Linked DNA regions of Homo sapiens: region 1 is linked to region 2. A link means that fine-mapping ties the variant in region 2 to the expression of a gene that starts in the linked region. Tissue or cell type: whole blood. Region 2 holds a variant in brackets; the other region holds the start of a gene. All regions are shown on one strand. Distances are from middle to middle.

Region 1 (8,185 bases), 71 kb before region 2:
CCTTCCATCTCTTCCTGGAAGAAATTTTGCAGGCCTCTGAATATCTGATACACAGCTTTGCCTTCTACCTTGCATGAGGGCCTACACTTACATCTTATCTTTCCTAGTATTTTGCAAACTTCTTGAGGACAAGAAAGTGTTTGGGGGCTCTGAAGCCAGTCTAGGTTTGAATCATGGGTCAGTCACCTGCCTATGTAGTTGTGTGATTTTGTGCAAGCAATTTCACCTCTTTATATTTCCGTTTTCTTTCTTTCCCTTTCTTTCTTTTTCTTTCTTTCTTTTCTTTTCTTTTCCTTCTTTCCTTCCCTCCCTCCCTCCCTTCTCTCTCTCTCTCTCTCTCTCTCTCTCTTTCTTGAGTTTCGCTCTTGTCACCCAGGCTGGAGTGCAGTGGCGTGATCTTGGCTCATTGCAAGCTCTGCCTCTTGGGTTCAAGCAATTCTCCTGCCTCAGCTTCCCGAGTAGCTCGGATTACAGGCGCCCACCACCACGCCCAGCTAATTTTCATATTTTTAGTAGAGATGGGGTTTCATCACGTTGGCCAGGCTGGTCTCCAGCTTCTCACCTCAGGTGATCCACCCGCCTCGGCCTTTCAAAGTGCTGGAATTACAGGCGTGAGCCACTGTGCTGGGCCTCTATATTTCAGTTTTCTTTTCTGTTAAGTGAGGAGGATCCTCATAGGATTTTGTGAGGATTCAATTAAATACTTTTGTAAACTGCTTAGGAGACACTTTTTGATAGTTTTGTAAACTGCTTAGGAGAATGCCAGACACATGAAAGTATTTAATAAATATTAGCTGTTACTATTAAATTTCTTATTTGTTGCATTAGTTTCTAAAATTTAGAGGCTTAGAACAGTTATAGACATTGTCACCTTTTACAGTTTCTGTGGATCAGGTATTGGGAAGTGACTTAGATGGGCTGCTCTAGTGTGGGATGTCTGCTAAGGTTGTGATCCAGATGTCAGCTGGGGCTGCAGTTACCTGAAGGAATTCCTGAGGCTGGAGGATCCACCTTCAAGGACAGTTCTTCTCTCTGTGGGGCCTTTCCACAAGACTGTCTAATGTTCTCATGACATGGCAGCTGGCTTCCCCCATTGAGGCCCCATTTACCAATTCAAGAGGCCAAGGCAGAAGCCCTAGTGCCTTCACACAGACAGCTGTGATTTGGTGTGCCTGATTATACTAGGGCATGAATCTCAGCAAGTGAGGATCATGAGGGGTAATTGTGGGGGCTGGTTGCCACATTTGTATTCTGTTTTCTTCCCAGGAAATCGGCATCAGTAGGAGGCTTATTATTCTATTTTTTATTTTTGAGTCAGGGTCTCACTATGTTTGTGGCCCAGGATGGATTACAGTGGCATGATCCCGGCTCACTGCAGACTTAAATTCCTGGGCTCAAGTAATCCTCCTAGCCTCCCAAGTAGCTAGTACTACAGGTGTGCGCCACTACCCCTGGTAATTTTTTATTTTTTGTAGAGACATGTTGCTGGGCTGGTCTCAAGTGATCCTCCAGCCTTGGCTTCCCAGAGTACCGAGATTACAGGTGTGAGCCACCATGCCCAGCCAGTAGGAGGCTCTAGTAATTGCAGACATTGTGATACAGGCCGGCTGGAGAAGAATTCAAGGAAGAAGGAAGGAATGAACCAAACGAAGTTATTTTTTCAGCCTCATCTTTTGCCTCTTCTCCCCTTGTAATCTTGACTTCCAGACACTGGATAAGGTCTATGACGGGCGACAAAGTGCACACAGCAATGACAGCCTAAGGGAATCGTGGAAAGTGTACCAGAGGAAGTGGTGTTTAAGTAGAGATCTGAATTTGCAGAGGAATGTAGCAAAGTGCATTGGAGAGGAGGAGCTAACCAGAGGGGCACAAGCCTTGATTATCTGAAGACCAGGTGGGATCTGAAAAACCATAAGAAATTCAGTTAAGCTGACAGCAATGAAAGGGACAAAACAGTGTTAGAAATTAGCATAATGTGTTCTCCAACAGAAAGTTCCAATAGAACTTTTTGCAATAATGAAATTTTCTTTATCTGAACTATCCAATACAGGAGCCACTAGCCACATGTAGCTACTGAGCACTTAAAATGTGGCTGGTGTGACCAAAGAATTGGATTTTTAGGCCAGGGGCGGTGGCTCACACCTGTAATCCCAGCACTTTGGGAGGCTGCGGCGGGTGGATCACAAGGTCCAGAGTTCAAGACCAGCCTGGACAATATGGTGAAACCCCGTCTCTACTAAAAATACAAAAATTAGCTGGGCGTGGTGGTGGGAGCCTGTAATCCCAGCTACTCGAGAGGCTGAGGCAGAGAACTGCTTGAACCCGGGAGGCACAGGTTGCAGTGAGCTGAGATCACGCCACTGCACTCCAGCCTGGACGACAGAGCAAGACTCCGTCTCAAAAAAAAAAAAAGGAAAAGAAAAAAGAAAAAAAAAAGAATTGGATTTTTATTGAAGAACTCAGGAACTGAATTTTAAATTTTATTTAATTTTAATTAATTTAAATTTCAATATTCACACATGGCTAATATCTACTGTACAGCAGAGCTCTTACAGTAAGAGACCCTTCTGAATAGTAGAGTGGCAGATAGAAGGAGAGGCTAAGCTTTGCCATGTAGGCAGTAGGCCCTTTCAGACTGGAAGGGACCTGGATAAACTAAACCTGGTGCCTGGCAAGTGCTGGCCAAGTGCTTGATGTGCTACCCTATTCCCTCTCTCTGCAAGGATATTTGTAATTGAGCTAGATGCTCTGAACAACGAAGGTCTAAAGACACAGGGGACTGGTTCTCTGATGGCACAATTTGAGAGAGCTATTTTGGGTGTGAATGTCTTTTGCCTACATCTACCACCTAGGATCAGGGTCAGACCCACTGTCTTTTAAGAGGGTCAACAGTGTAAAGGCTGTGTCCAAACTTGCATCTTCTTAGACCAAACAATAACCTTCCTTCCCTCCCTTGGTCCTTCTCTCCCCTCCTTCCTTCCATGACTTTGTGCTATGCTGGGTTTTGGGAAGAGGAGGTGGAACAACGCAGTACCTTTTCTTTTCTTTCTCTCTCTCTCTTTTTTTTTTTTTTTTTTTTTTTTTTGAGACGGAGTCCCATTCTGTCGTGCCCAGGCTGGAGTACAGTGGCTGGAGTATCTCGGCTCACTGCAACCTCAGCCTCCAGGGTTCAAGGGATTCTCCTGCCTCAGCCTCCCGAGTAGCTGCGATTACAGGTGCCCGCCACCAAGCCCAGCTAATTTTTTTTTTTTTGTATTTTTAGCAGAGACAGGGTTTTGCCATGTTGGCCTGGCTGGTATCAAACTCCTGACCTCAGGTGATCCGCCTGCCTCAGACTCCCGAAGTGTTGGGAATACAGGTGTGAGCCACCGTGCCCGGGCAGTACCTTTTCTTTTAAAAGCTCACAGATGAGTATAAAAATGTCCACGCACTGGCTGGGAGCCAGATGATTTGGGTTCTGGGTTCTAGTTCTGTCTCCCCAGACTTGCTGTCTGTGACACAGCTTTCCCATTTGTAAAATGTCAGGGCTGCAGAGGACTTCTGAGGTTTCCGCCCTCTCCTACCTCCTGGGAGATTATGTCATGTAATAATGCTAACAGTGGTAATAAAAACCCAGCCACGTTGAGTGTTCCAGGTTTCACGCACTGTGCCAAATGTTTCACATTTGCCATTTCACTCAATCCTCGTGGCCGTTTTACAACCCTCATTTTATAAATAAGAACCCTGAAGCTGCCTGAGTTTAGGTAACTACTTCAGGGCCACACAAGGAGTAAGTAGTTGAGTTGGGATTTGAATATTGATTCCAAACCTTGAGCTCTTAATGACTTTGCTGTATACATTACTTCTTGCCACAGGTGGGCCAGTGACGAACGAACGTTGGGTTAAGCAGGGAGGTATTCTTGTTAGGATTATTAGCAATGCTTAGTGTATGTATGTATTGTTAATTTTATTATTATTTTTTTGAAACAGTCTCGCTTTGTCGCCTAGGCTGGAGGCAGTGGCGCGATATCGGCTCACTGCAACCTCCGCCTCCTGGATTCAAGCGATTCTCGTGCCTCAGCCTCCCGAGTAACTGGGATTACAGGCACGAGCGACCACGCCCGACTACATTTTGTATTTTTAGTAGAGACGGGGTTTCGCCATGTTGGCCAGGTTGGTCTTCAACTCCTGACTTCAGGTGCTCCGCCCGCCCCAGCCTCCCAAAGTGCTGGGATTACAGGCTTGAGTCACCGCGCCCGGCCTGTATTTATTTTTATATAGAGAAGGGCGAGGGAGCGGGGTCATTTTGTTACCCAGACTGGTCTCGAACTCCTGGGCTCAAGCGATCCTCTCGCCTCGGCCTCCCTCCCAAAGTGTTGGGATCACCGGCCTGAGCCCCCTGCCCGGCCTCGCTCTACGTTTTTTAGGCGCATTCTGAACGTGAAGTGTATACACTGAATTCTCACAGCAACTGCATAGGGCATCAGTACCAGTGCCCTTACTGTACAGATGGGGAAAATGAGGCTCAGACAGGCGAAGTAAGTAGCTTAAGTTCACACAGAGAGGAAATGGCAGGGATTCAAAGCCTAGGAGTCCGCCTGCAACCCTCTCGCCTGACCGTCCAGTCTTCAGCTCCGCGGAGCCTGGGCCTGGGGCTGGGGCTGGGGCTGAGGCTCTGGAAGCCGCCGGGACGCAGACGCCACTGGGCCCCAGCGTCACACCTCGGCCGCGCACGCGCTCTCGGGTTCCGGGCCGGAGCGCGCGGCGGGAGCGAGGACGGCGGCAGGGAGCGTGCGCGCGGTGACGTACCGGGCGCCATGTTGGAGGGTTGGTGGTAGCGGCTTGGGGAGGTGCTCGCTCTGTCGGTCTTGCTCTCTCGCACGCTTCCCCCGGCTCCCTTCGTTTCCCCCCCCCGGTCGCCTGCGTGCCGGAGTGTGTGCGAGGGAGGGGGAGGGCGTCGGGGGGGTGGGGGGAGGCGTTCCGGTCCCCAAGAGACCCGCGGAGGGAGGCGGAGGCTGTGAGGGACTCCGGGAAGCCATGGACGTCGAGAGGCTCCAGGAGGCGCTGAAAGGTGGGGGTAGCTGCCCCCTCTCCATTCCCCCTCACCTTCTCCGGCTCGCTCTTCTCTCCTTTCAGGGCGGATGGTTCCGAGGACCGGGGCCGGGCGCGGCGTGGGGAGAGTGCTTCCCGGGCTCCCATCCCCCTCCACCTCCCCAGGGGCGGGGAGCCCTGTGGGCAGCTCTCTCCCGCCCCGCTCTGGCTTTGTGTCGGCCGCCGGCGTCTGGGCTGGGGGAGGGGAGCCGGGGAAACTCTTGCGGGGGCCCCAGTCTTTCTCCCACCCGTTCAGGGGACGAGTGGCGGACCCGCAGACCCCTCCCTCCCAGATATCCTCTTTTCTCCACCAGGCTACCCGTACGCTAGGCGTTGGGGTGGGAGAAAAAGTAAACGGTTGGTGGGGGCGGGGGTAGGGGGTAGCATCGCAACTTTTAAGTTGTCTCAGTATGCCTTTTTCAGGGCTTTTGAAGTCATCTTTCCGCGCCCTAATTTCGAGGTGGTTGCCTTCACTGTTCTTGATTGCACGCCTTCCACGCAACAGGCTTGAGAACAGTGGCTTACAAACTTCGAGTAGAGAGATTTCAGCGTTTTGAGAATTATTCTTTGACATTCAGAATCATTTGGGGACGGCAACTTGGGGTAGTTGGTGCTTCTTAGAAAGGCAGATTTATGGACTTAGATGAACAATTGGTGGGAGTCGGGGCCTGGGGATTTTTATTTTCACTGGATTCCCAGCTTAATATAATGCTGGTGTTCCCCCGGACCACACTTCGAGAAGCACTGCGTTAAAAATGGTTTGTGAAGTTGAGTGCCCCCTTTAGGAGGATTCTTGTTATCTGTAAAGAGGGTGACATGTTGGAAGTAGAACTTGGAGGATTGAGGTGGTAATTTGGTTGAGAGGCCTTATTTTTTTAATTTTGTATTTAATTGATTTTTAATAAGGTAAAGGACTAGGAGGAAAGTTTGTTTTTAGAGCGCTTTTGAGAAAACTGATAACGTTTTTTTTTCTTCCTTCATCTAGATTTTGAGAAGAGGGGGAAAAAGGAAGTTTGTCCTGTCCTGGATCAGTTTCTTTGTCATGTAGCCAAGACTGGAGAAACAATGTGAGTTGAAAACATGCATTTGTCGTTATAGACCAGTGCATTATTAAGAATTGCTCAGGAAAGGGAAAAAAGTATATTTTGGGATAATTAAATAATTCATTCTAAATTGTAGAAGTCCTGGTCATTTAAATAATTTATATATTTACATTTAAAGAACGTATACGCTTACTTACTTTATACATGGTCTGTAACGGATTTTAAAAACCTGTGTATGTTAAAATTTTCTTTATAGCTAGGCTTTGGCACGCTTAGAGAATGTATTAGTCTTAACGAGCCAGAGAAAGGAAGAATGCCTATTCCATTATGACCCTTTTTGGCCATAACAAATAGGCTTATTCCTAGAATTTTGTGGCTTTGATTCTGTTTCAGAGTCTTGGTGGTATTTTCTCATATTGTCGTGTGTCCAGCCTTTTTTTGGTCATATTTGCATATGTAGGTGTTTAAAGTGTCACTTCTATTTATCGTCTGGAGGACTCTGTTATTATCTGACAAATTCCAGATGCTACAGTTTTGACTTGTAGACTTTCTAAGATAGCTGACTTGTTACATATGCTCAGCATTTTATTCAGCTCGTTTCCAAATGTTCTGAATCTGAAACTTACGCTATAAAGTTAGGGCTGTGTTCAGAAGGAACATTCCAGGTCATTGTTTTGCAGTTTGTGTGGTAGACACAATCTGGCTAAGTTTATTTGTAGACAACAGTGCATCTTTGATGACTTCTTTTTGTAGTCTTTGGGTGGGGGCTGGGGCAGCAGGAAAGGGGTAGGTTTCTATGGTTTCAATGTTAATAAGTGGGTTATCTGCCCAGTATGAGTGTAGCTTTCAGCAAGAATTGTATAATTTCTCTGGCTTTATTATTAGCAAGTGTTCATTTCTCACAAGATTTGCTTATTTGTAGTCTAGCCTTTTAACAACTAGCCTAATTTTAGAAAGAAAAAAACCTTTGCTGCCTCAGTGCTTGATTTAATGGTCATGCCTGCAAGCTGAGTCTCCTTAGTATTCTATTAAAATACACCAGTCATTTTGAGAACGTCAGTGTGATGTGTTCAATGTTGTATTTCTATTTATTACATTAAAAAATGGGACCCTCTGGGCGGGGGAAGTCATTTTTACCTTCGCATTAGGGTTTCATATAGAACATCTTGATTTAGAACAATGTAAAACTGTTAATTTGTGCTTATATAGATAAGCCTAAAAATGACCACATGCCATCTTTCAAAAATAAATTAATCCCTAAAACATAAATGCTTAGACTGCCACTATTCCTCTTGAATTGCTAGTCGGCACAGACTTAGCCCTGTCAACAATGTCAAGCCAAATAGCATTTTACTTTTGGCTGTTTTTTGATATACAAGATGATATCAAACTATTTGGAGATGAGTACTTAAAACGTCTTACTCAGTTTATCAGGTTTGTACACACTGCTTTCCCTTTTTGATAAAGTACATTGCCTATAAATGTATAAATAATTGAAAGTTTCTAAAAGATAGCTTTTTAATATCCTGTCTTACTGGAACACCAAGTGGCTGGGGAAGTTATCTGATTTTTTTTGGACAGTTATTTTATCCTGGTAGAAGAGGACTTAAAATTCCCAATCCTCCACCCCATATTCGGTGTTTATGTATTCACTAAGCATGTTTTGTACTGAAATGATTGGTGTAGTTAGATTCTTATATTCAATGGAATTTGGAAAATATTTTTTATTTTATTATGTAAATAGCAGCCAGTGTTTATGCATTTAGCTTTAAGCTTTGATTTCTTTTTATCAACATGGCATATCTTTGATACTGACATTTGCAGAGTTTCTGCTACCTATTTATGGCTAAACTAAGCTTTGTCTAGTATGTGAGATTGTAACGAGAGAATGAAAATGAAAATTTAAAGAACAGCAATTTAGACTTTTCTGATGTTTTAGGATGGGTGGATTGCTTAAGATAAGCATTTCCACCGGATGTGGTGGCTCATGCCTGTATCTCAGCACTTTGGGAAACAGTGGGTCACTTGAGCTCAGGACAAAAAATTTAAGTTACCTGAGTGTGTTGGTACAT
Region 2 (8,156 bases):
ATCAAGTGATAAGATTTGCACCAGCAGTCTCCAAGTTCAGAGACGATTCAAGGCAATGATGGCATCTATTGGAAGACTTTCACATGGTGAGAGTGCTGATCTGCTAATCAGCTGCAATGCAGAATCAGCCATAGGTTGGATCAGCTCAAGACCATGGGTTGGAGAATTAATGTTCACACTTCTATTTGGAGACTTTGAATCCCCTCTACACAAGCTACGCAAGTCAAGTTAGTTGCCAAGAAAGCACAGATGACAACCTATTAATGCTGTGAGAATGTTTCTAGATCAGTGCATGGATGGCTCCATTGCTCTACGGGCCATTGTGTCTGAGATCCCAGTCTTTGAGGAGAAAAAAAACAATGGTTAAAAAGGCATTGGGGAAATATTTTGAGTTTGGGGGTGTACTTTGCCACCCCATTATTGGGGAGCTGTCACCACGAATGTTCCCAAACTTAGCAACAGCGGCAAACTACTGGGCCAAGATGAGCAACCCCACATTTTTGGGATTTAAAGCTCCTGATGTTATACCAGGATCAACCATCACACTCCCTTTGCTTCAAATGGCATCTACCCCGTAAGATCTTGAGGGGGGAGTGTTGGGTGGAATCATAGATCCATGCACTCCTAACATGAACTAATTCTCATTATTTAAAAAAAAAAAAAAAAAAAAAAGTCCAGGTGTGGTGGCTTAACGCCTGTAATCCCAGCACTTTGGGAGGCCGAGGTGGGCCGATCACTTGAGGTCATGAGTTTGAGGCTAGCCTGGCCAACATGGCAAAACCCCGTCTCTACTAAAAATAAAAAAAATAGCTGCGCATGGCATCACACGTCTGTCATCCCAGCTACTTGGGAGGCTGAGGCATAAGAATTGCTTGAACCTGGGAAGTGGAGGTTGCAGTGAGCTGAGATTGCACCACTGCACTCCATTCCACCTTGGGTGACAGAGCCAGACTCCATCTAAAAAAAAATTAAGTCATCCACAAGTGTATTTTCTTTTCTTATAGGAAAAACAATTCCAATAGTTTAAATCGAATGAATGGTGTTATGTTTCCTGGAAATTCACCAAGCTATACTGAGAGGTGAGATTCTAGATTTTTAATACCTACAGAGTTTGCATTGTCCTGATTTTGAGTAGCAGGCTTAGTGTACTTTTTAAAAATTGGGCATTTTATGGACACCATAGGATGAACTACATAGAATTAGTTAATTTGGTAAGGCATGGGCCTGAAAACAAAGTTGCAGCAAATACTTCTGTGATGTATTCACATCAACATACCTTAAGAGGGATGACTTTTTATAAAAATAGGAAATGATGTTCATTTATCTTATTATAGGTCTAATATAAATGGGCCTGGGACACCCAGGCCACTTAATCGACCAAAGGTTTCTTTGTCAGCCCCCATGACAACAAATGGGTTGCCTGAGAGCACAGACAGCAAAGAGGCAAATTTGCAGCAAAATGAGGAGAAAAATCACAGGTTTGTATGTTTTATATTTAAAAACAGTGTTTTTATTAAAAGTTAAAGTTAACATTTAATCAGTACTTATCACTTACTATTTATAAGTTCTGAGGGACAGAACAAGGTTTTCATGCGGTTTATAGGAGCACTGGCTTCTCTTTGCAGCTGTAGCAAATGTTGAAGGTGGACATAGACAAGACTTAAAACTGCTAATTTGTGGAGACTGTTTATGTAGGGTCTAAAAGTAACGTAGATATGATGATCCATTTCATTTGTTGTTTCTGAAAGTTACTTGAAAAGAAATGATCTTTATAAATAAGTTGATTTTTGTGAGTCGTTTCTCATTGTAGTTCATAAAAGGACACCTTTTGTTTATATCTTCAAATTTTCTGTATCACATTAAGGGAAGGAAGACTAAATGAGGGAGAGGACTTAAGAGAGTATGTCCGTATGGAAGACTTGCGGGTTTATTGTAGGAGAATATTTAACTTACTGGAGAATTGCACAGAAAGGTCATATAGCTTTTCTGAGTCCTACTGGGAATTATTCATCAAACAGTTTAGTTTACCTTGAAATTATTCTCTTGTGTTTTTCTTTGTTCAGGTGTTATAATTTAACTTTGACACTGAAATACAATTTAAAACATTATTTAACCTTAAAAATGGGGATGTAGAAGATGGGGAAAATAATCTTATTAATGACACTTTAAAAAAACATTTACAGTGACTCTTCGACCTCTGAATCAGAAGTTTCCTCAGTGAGCCCTTTGAAAAATAAACATCCAGATGAAGATGCTGTGGAAGCTGAGGGGCATGAGGTAAAAAGACTCAGGTTTGACAAAGAAGGTGAAGTCAGAGAAACAGCCAGTCAAACGACTTCCAGCGAAATTTCTTCAGTTATGGTAGGAGAAACAGAAGCATCATCTTCATCTCAGGATAAAGACAAAGATAGCCGTTGTACCCGGCAGCACTGTACAGAAGAGGATGAAGAAGAGGATGAAGAGGAAGAAGAAGGTATTTAGAGACCATCTGTAAAAGGGTGGAGTAAGGAGATCCTCAAATTCTTGTACTTCATTTTTTTCGTGAAAGAATTTTACGTAATGGAACTCCTTATAATGCTGATGTTGGGCTTTTCTCCCACCTGTATGTAGTTGCTGCTGAATTTCAGGGGATGTGATTTGAACTATAGAATATCAGAATTCATGAAACTTAACTGTGGAGGTATTTTGAAAATACAATTTAACTACAACAACATTTGCTTATTTTTAGAGTCTTTTATGACATCAAGAGAAATGATCCCAGAAAGAAAAAATCAAGAAAAAGAATCTGATGATGCCTTAACTGTGAATGAAGAGACTTCTGAGGAAAATAATCAAATGGAGGAATCTGATGTGTCTCAAGCTGAGAAAGATTTGCTACATTCTGAAGGTAGTGAAAACGAAGGCCCTGTAAGTAGTAGTTCTTCTGACTGCCGTGAAACAGAAGAATTAGTAGGATCCAATTCCAGTAAAACTGGAGAGATTCTTTCAGAATCATCCATGGAAAATGATGACGAAGCCACAGAAGTCACCGATGAACCAATGGAACAAGACTAACTATTTAGAAACATTTAGATGCAGTATTTTACATACAGTTCTGGTTTTAACACTGTATAAAACTTTTGTGTAATAAAATGGACCTTTAGTTTTACAAGAGAAGCAGGTTGTAAAATAAAGTACTTTATGGATAATTCCTGAAAGAGTTGTACATGTAAGAACTGTGAATATCAGCTCCTCTGGGTCCTGCTTACCTTACCGCTGACTTTTCTTTCTTTCTTTTTTTGGTCTGGGCAAATCAGTGGTTTGTGTATAGATTTTTTTTTTTTTTTAATTTAGGATTGAAGTTTTTAAACTGGAAAGTAATTACAATTTTGAAAAGTTTTTTGAGATTATCACATTTAGTTTATACATATGCAAGAAGCTTTTTGTCTTGTCTCTTTCTGATAGCTCTAGCAGTTTTCATATTTTGGTCATAGTTTCAACATTTTAACATGTGAATTATAGGGTTTCATGCTGGTTTCCAGATTTTATTGTTTGGCTACGTACAATGGAACTTTAAGTCATATATACATACATATATATATATATATATATATAATTCTAAGGGGGGAAATGTTATATTTTTCTGTTTCTATAAGAGATGAATACAGTGGATACTTTTTCTATTGGTAATGATTGAGTTCACCTCTTTCAGAAGACATTTTCTTTCTCTTCTGAGTAATTGAAATAAAATCTGGCCCTTGTGAAACCCTGGAAATCTTAAGTCTGTTGAAATACCAGGTTAAACACATTCCAAGAGATCTGTTCAAACTCAAATTCTTTTGTATACTTCTGAGGTGCCTGAGAAAAAGACTTCATTATTTATGAGAAAATATGCTTTATCTTGGAAATTGTGTTCAAATGTTAGCTTACTATTTTGTAGAATGAATGTTTATGAAGCTGATATGAGACCATCTCAGAAGAACCAAGTAGGTTCCTTGACCTTTTGCTTGCTTTTCTGAACATTGTGAATATTACACATGTCTTTCTAAATTATTCTAGGGTATGCAAATGTCAATGGTATGAAACACCACTGTACTGGAAGAATTAATATATTACTTTAGTATGTACCTGAGCTAAATGACTGAAGCTTTAGGGGTGCATAGAAACCACCATAATTTGTATGACATTTTGAAGTGAATTAAATATTTTTGAACATGCTTCTTCGACAGCCAGTGTTATATTTTTCAGATCAACACAAAGCACAATGATTACTCGAAATTCAGTATTTTCAAATTTACATATTTAAAGTCATGCAAGCTGTAACTTCCCTGTCAAAATTACTGGCTGCCAAATTTATACCTGTTTCTTCAGCTGTACCTTTTGATATTTAAAGTTTTTAAATTTCTGTAAAGTAGATTTTGTAGAATGTAATGTGTTCACTGCCTTTGTGAAGCGGTATATAATTGTATAATTTCTGTGTGTAAACTGAATGCTTGGGCTTTCAATACAGTATTCATATAAAGCAATAAATATTAATGTTATGAAATATTTGACTACATTTTTATCAAAATATGAAAGAATCCCCCCTTTTTTAGTTTCAGATACCTGAACTACACAGATGAGCTTCTAAAACTGATGCAAACAGTTTCTGACACTGTATAATATGCTTTTGGGTGATTTGGGGGGCAACCACAAGTTTTGCGTTTTGACTACTTAAATCATCATGGCTATAAATACCAAAACGATTTGGATCCATTTATGTTTGTAGGATAATATACTACTGACTGACTTGACTGTCAGGTTCACAACAGCTAGATGATATATTTATGACTATGTCTAATAGTTGAAATAAAATCTGAATATTGATTTACTATACCCAAGAGGGGAGAAAAATTAACCATTGTAAATTTTTAAAAA[A/T]TTTTTCAAAAATGTTAAAATGAGGCAAATTTAAGTTTACAAATTTTGAAATTTTCTTTTGAATATTTATGAAATTGTCAGTAAACTTACCTAAGATCCTGTGACCTTTTGATATTTTTTATTTTAATTGTAGTGCCATGGACCATTTGTAAACAAATTGATTTACTTTTGTTGGTTGTAAGTTGAAGATTTAGCATTATGACTTTGAGGTCTGTGGTTTTATTTGTAAACTTGCAATTGCTATATTTGCAAGGGCAAATGTATTTCTTTATTAAATAAAGTACAATAATGGTGAATGTACCAAAATGACATCACTTAACTCTATGAGAGATCTGCATTTTAATCTATAGTTTAATAGTTTTAATATTTATTAGATATTCATATGTTGATCATAGATCAAACTTGTTGCTGTTTATACAGATAATTGTAGAATGCTCATGGAATATCTTTAGGGTAGGTGGAATACTTCTGTAGTTAAATTGGGAAACCTTGTTCAGCTGGTTTTAGATATTGATGGCCATTTGGAAGTAAATTTCCGCAGGTATTCATAGGTGCACTTAACACAGACTTTGCTTAATGAAAATGTCAGTTCTAATAGTAACTGATTCACTTCTGAACAGAAGTGATTTTAGGCATATTTCTTAACATATATCAAGCAAAGTCCTGTTAAAAGATCTAAATGAAGAATGGAGACCTCAGTGATTAAAGATATTTTGTTTCTGACCTTGAGCAGATTGCTTACCTGTTCTCTAGACTATAACCCAACATGTAAAAAAAATTTGAAGATGGTGATGAGGAAAGTGAGATATATATATATATATGTATTATGTTTCTAGCACTTTTCCCTTTTAAAAAGTGAAAATATCCTTGTACATTTTTGAAAAATATATTTTCAGTTCTGAAAAATGTAGCAGAAGTAGTGAAAATGTCATATTTTAAATGTTGATTATTAGATAAATTTAACCTGCTTAGGGTTTATTGTAACTACACCTTTCAGACGTGTGTTTTGGAGTAGTGGAATTGCCAGCCAGGCCCTGTGGCTTGGAAAGGCATCCCAGAAATCCTCGGCCAGAAGGTGTGGCTTGTTAAAGCATTGAGATTCAGAGTATTTTGTTTTGCCGGTGTAGATAGGCATGTATTTATGCATTTTTGCATTTGTAAAATCAACTTTTCAAATAATGTAAATGTAATATACTAGTTTACTTAAAGGTACTTGGGCAGAATCTAAAGCTGCTACAATGTTTGATTATGAAAAAAATGTAACATGGTAAGGATGAAAATGCAACTTACAAAACCAAAGGAATTAAAAATTTTCGGTAGTGTTTCAAATTGTCTTCTGAACAGGAATTTAACATTGGTTTTGATGAAGGTGAGGGTCAGTTCTCAAGATTTGTGCTAATCATAAAATGAATGAATGCAAAACACCTTGTAATTTCATATGGAATTATAAAAATTAGGTTTGCTGGGTTTTGGCCTAATAAGAGTGCTAGTATGTATTGGTTAGACTACATCTTACTATTTCACATTTTAAAAATCAGTACACTCTTCAGGATTTTCTTTTATTTCAACTTGGAGCCTAGATTACTTTGCCAAATGTATTATTTTCATAATGCAATAAAATATAAATTAGAATATTTCTATGTGTGTAATTATTTTATGTGCCATAATGGTTTATTTGCCCTGCTGCCACTCCGACTCCCCCCCAACCCCCCCAACCCCCCCCGACCCTGCGCCACCACCCACCTCAAATCCTTAACTGAGGAAACTCAATGTGTGACTTTGTTACAGCCCTGTTTCTTACATGGTGACAAAGTGTTCCAGCAGGACTTGACAGTTGTGGTTCTTTGCCAGGCAAGTCATGCTGATTGTCAACAAAATCCAGATTTAAATAAGTCTCCACTGGTATAATTTGGCACTAGCTTACATGTATATATTTACAATATTTGTGTTAATCATTTTAAAGGCTGGGCGCAGTGGCTCACGCCTGTAATCCCAGCACTTGAGGCCAAGGCAGGTAGATCTCTTGAGGCCAGAAGTTCGAGACCAGCCTGGCCAACATGATGAAACCCCGTCTCTACTAAAAATAACAAAAATTAGCCAGGTGTGGTGGTGGGCACCTGTAATCCCGGCTACTCAGGAGGCTGAGGCAGGAGAATTGCTTGAACCTGGGAGGCAGAGGTTGCAGTGAGCCGAGATCACACCACTGCACTCCAGCCTGGGCGACAGATCGAGAGTCCGTCTTTAAAAATAAAAAAAATCATTTTTGAAATCCCACCTTCAGGCAACTACATGGTAAGAAGTGTAGAATTACCTGAAGTGGAGAGGAGGGTTCTGTTTTCAACTGTGGGTCTCCTTTCCTATGCTTCTTTTTGTTTTTGTTTTTGGGACGGAATCTTCCTCCGTTGCCCAGGCTGGAGTGCAGTGGTATGATCTCGGTCTCGGCTCACTGGAACCTCTGCCTCCCGGGTTCAAACAATTCTCCTGCCTCAGCCTCCTGAGTAGCTAGGACTACAGGCATGCACCACCATGCCCGTCTCATTTTTGTATATATATGTTTTTCGTAGAGATGGGGTTTCACAGTGTTGGCCAGGGTGGTCTTGAACTCCTGACATCAGGTGATCTGCCCGCCTCAGCCTCCCACAGTGCTGGGATTACAGACATGAGCCACCATGACTGGCCCTCTAGGCATATTATCGCACAGTAGCTACAGTAGAGGGTAAGATCTGTGGCTCTGAACTAAGGAGAGTACTAGTCGGTGTGTTTCTAACCTTAAGAATGTCTTAGTTTTCAGCTTCTCATATTTGATCTCTTACCCCCACTTAATTTTGTTTACTAAATAGTATAACTAGTACGTAGTTCAGGGCTAATGATGGGAAGACTGATTTTTCCACTGGCTAGGAATAAACTGCGTGAACTCTTCCCTATTTAAAATGAAGAGTATGCAATTCCCTTTTATTCTTCAGAACGTTTTAAGTTTAAACTTTAGCAGTAGTTTGTCATCTTTAGGTTTTGTTTGTACATTTTCAGAGTTTTTCTTCCCATAACTAAAAGTAATGAATATTCCAAAATGCCAGCAATTCCCTGTATACTAGTCTGCCATCTCCACTGTTTTACTCATCTTTGTAACCTCACAGGCTAGCCCCATGCTTGACAAGTGATAACAAAATTGAAAGCAAGTGGTAGGTCCACAGCCCACTTTAGATTCCTATGTTTTACCGATTCTGTGTCTACTTTGCCCACTTCAAGTGTGCTAAGGTCAC

What was found. PIP is the estimated chance that this variant, and not a neighbour inherited with it, causes the effect.
Region 1: it holds the start of PPP4R2, and the variant in region 2 is fine-mapped to the expression of PPP4R2 in whole blood (TOPMed, PIP 0.97).

Annotation. Positions count from the first base shown.
Region 1 is chr3:72,992,022-73,000,206 of GRCh38, forward strand. It overlaps PPP4R2 (protein phosphatase 4 regulatory subunit 2), which reads left to right and starts at 4,790. Exons shown (of 9, transcript NM_174907.4): 1 at 4,790-5,050; 2 at 6,056-6,137. The coding sequence starts at 5,017. It overlaps LOC124909395 (a long non-coding RNA gene), which reads right to left and starts at 5,170. Exons shown (of 2, transcript XR_007095961.1): 1 at 5,086-5,170; 2 at 1,439-1,901. RefSeq lists enhancers at 4,415-4,464, 5,725-5,774 and a silencer at 4,645-5,274.
Region 2 is chr3:73,062,669-73,070,824 of GRCh38, forward strand. It overlaps PPP4R2 (protein phosphatase 4 regulatory subunit 2), which reads left to right. Exons shown (of 9, transcript NM_174907.4): 6 at 1,005-1,079; 7 at 1,335-1,478; 8 at 2,184-2,473; 9 at 2,729-6,530. The coding sequence ends at 3,054. EBLN2 (endogenous Bornavirus like nucleoprotein 2) reads left to right here. Exons shown (of 1, transcript NM_018029.4): 1 at 1-669. The coding sequence ends at 232. Among named protein-coding and RNA genes, the nearest start is that of EBLN2, 5.1 kb to the left of the region's middle. The variant A/T (reference allele first, on the strand shown) is at 4,897.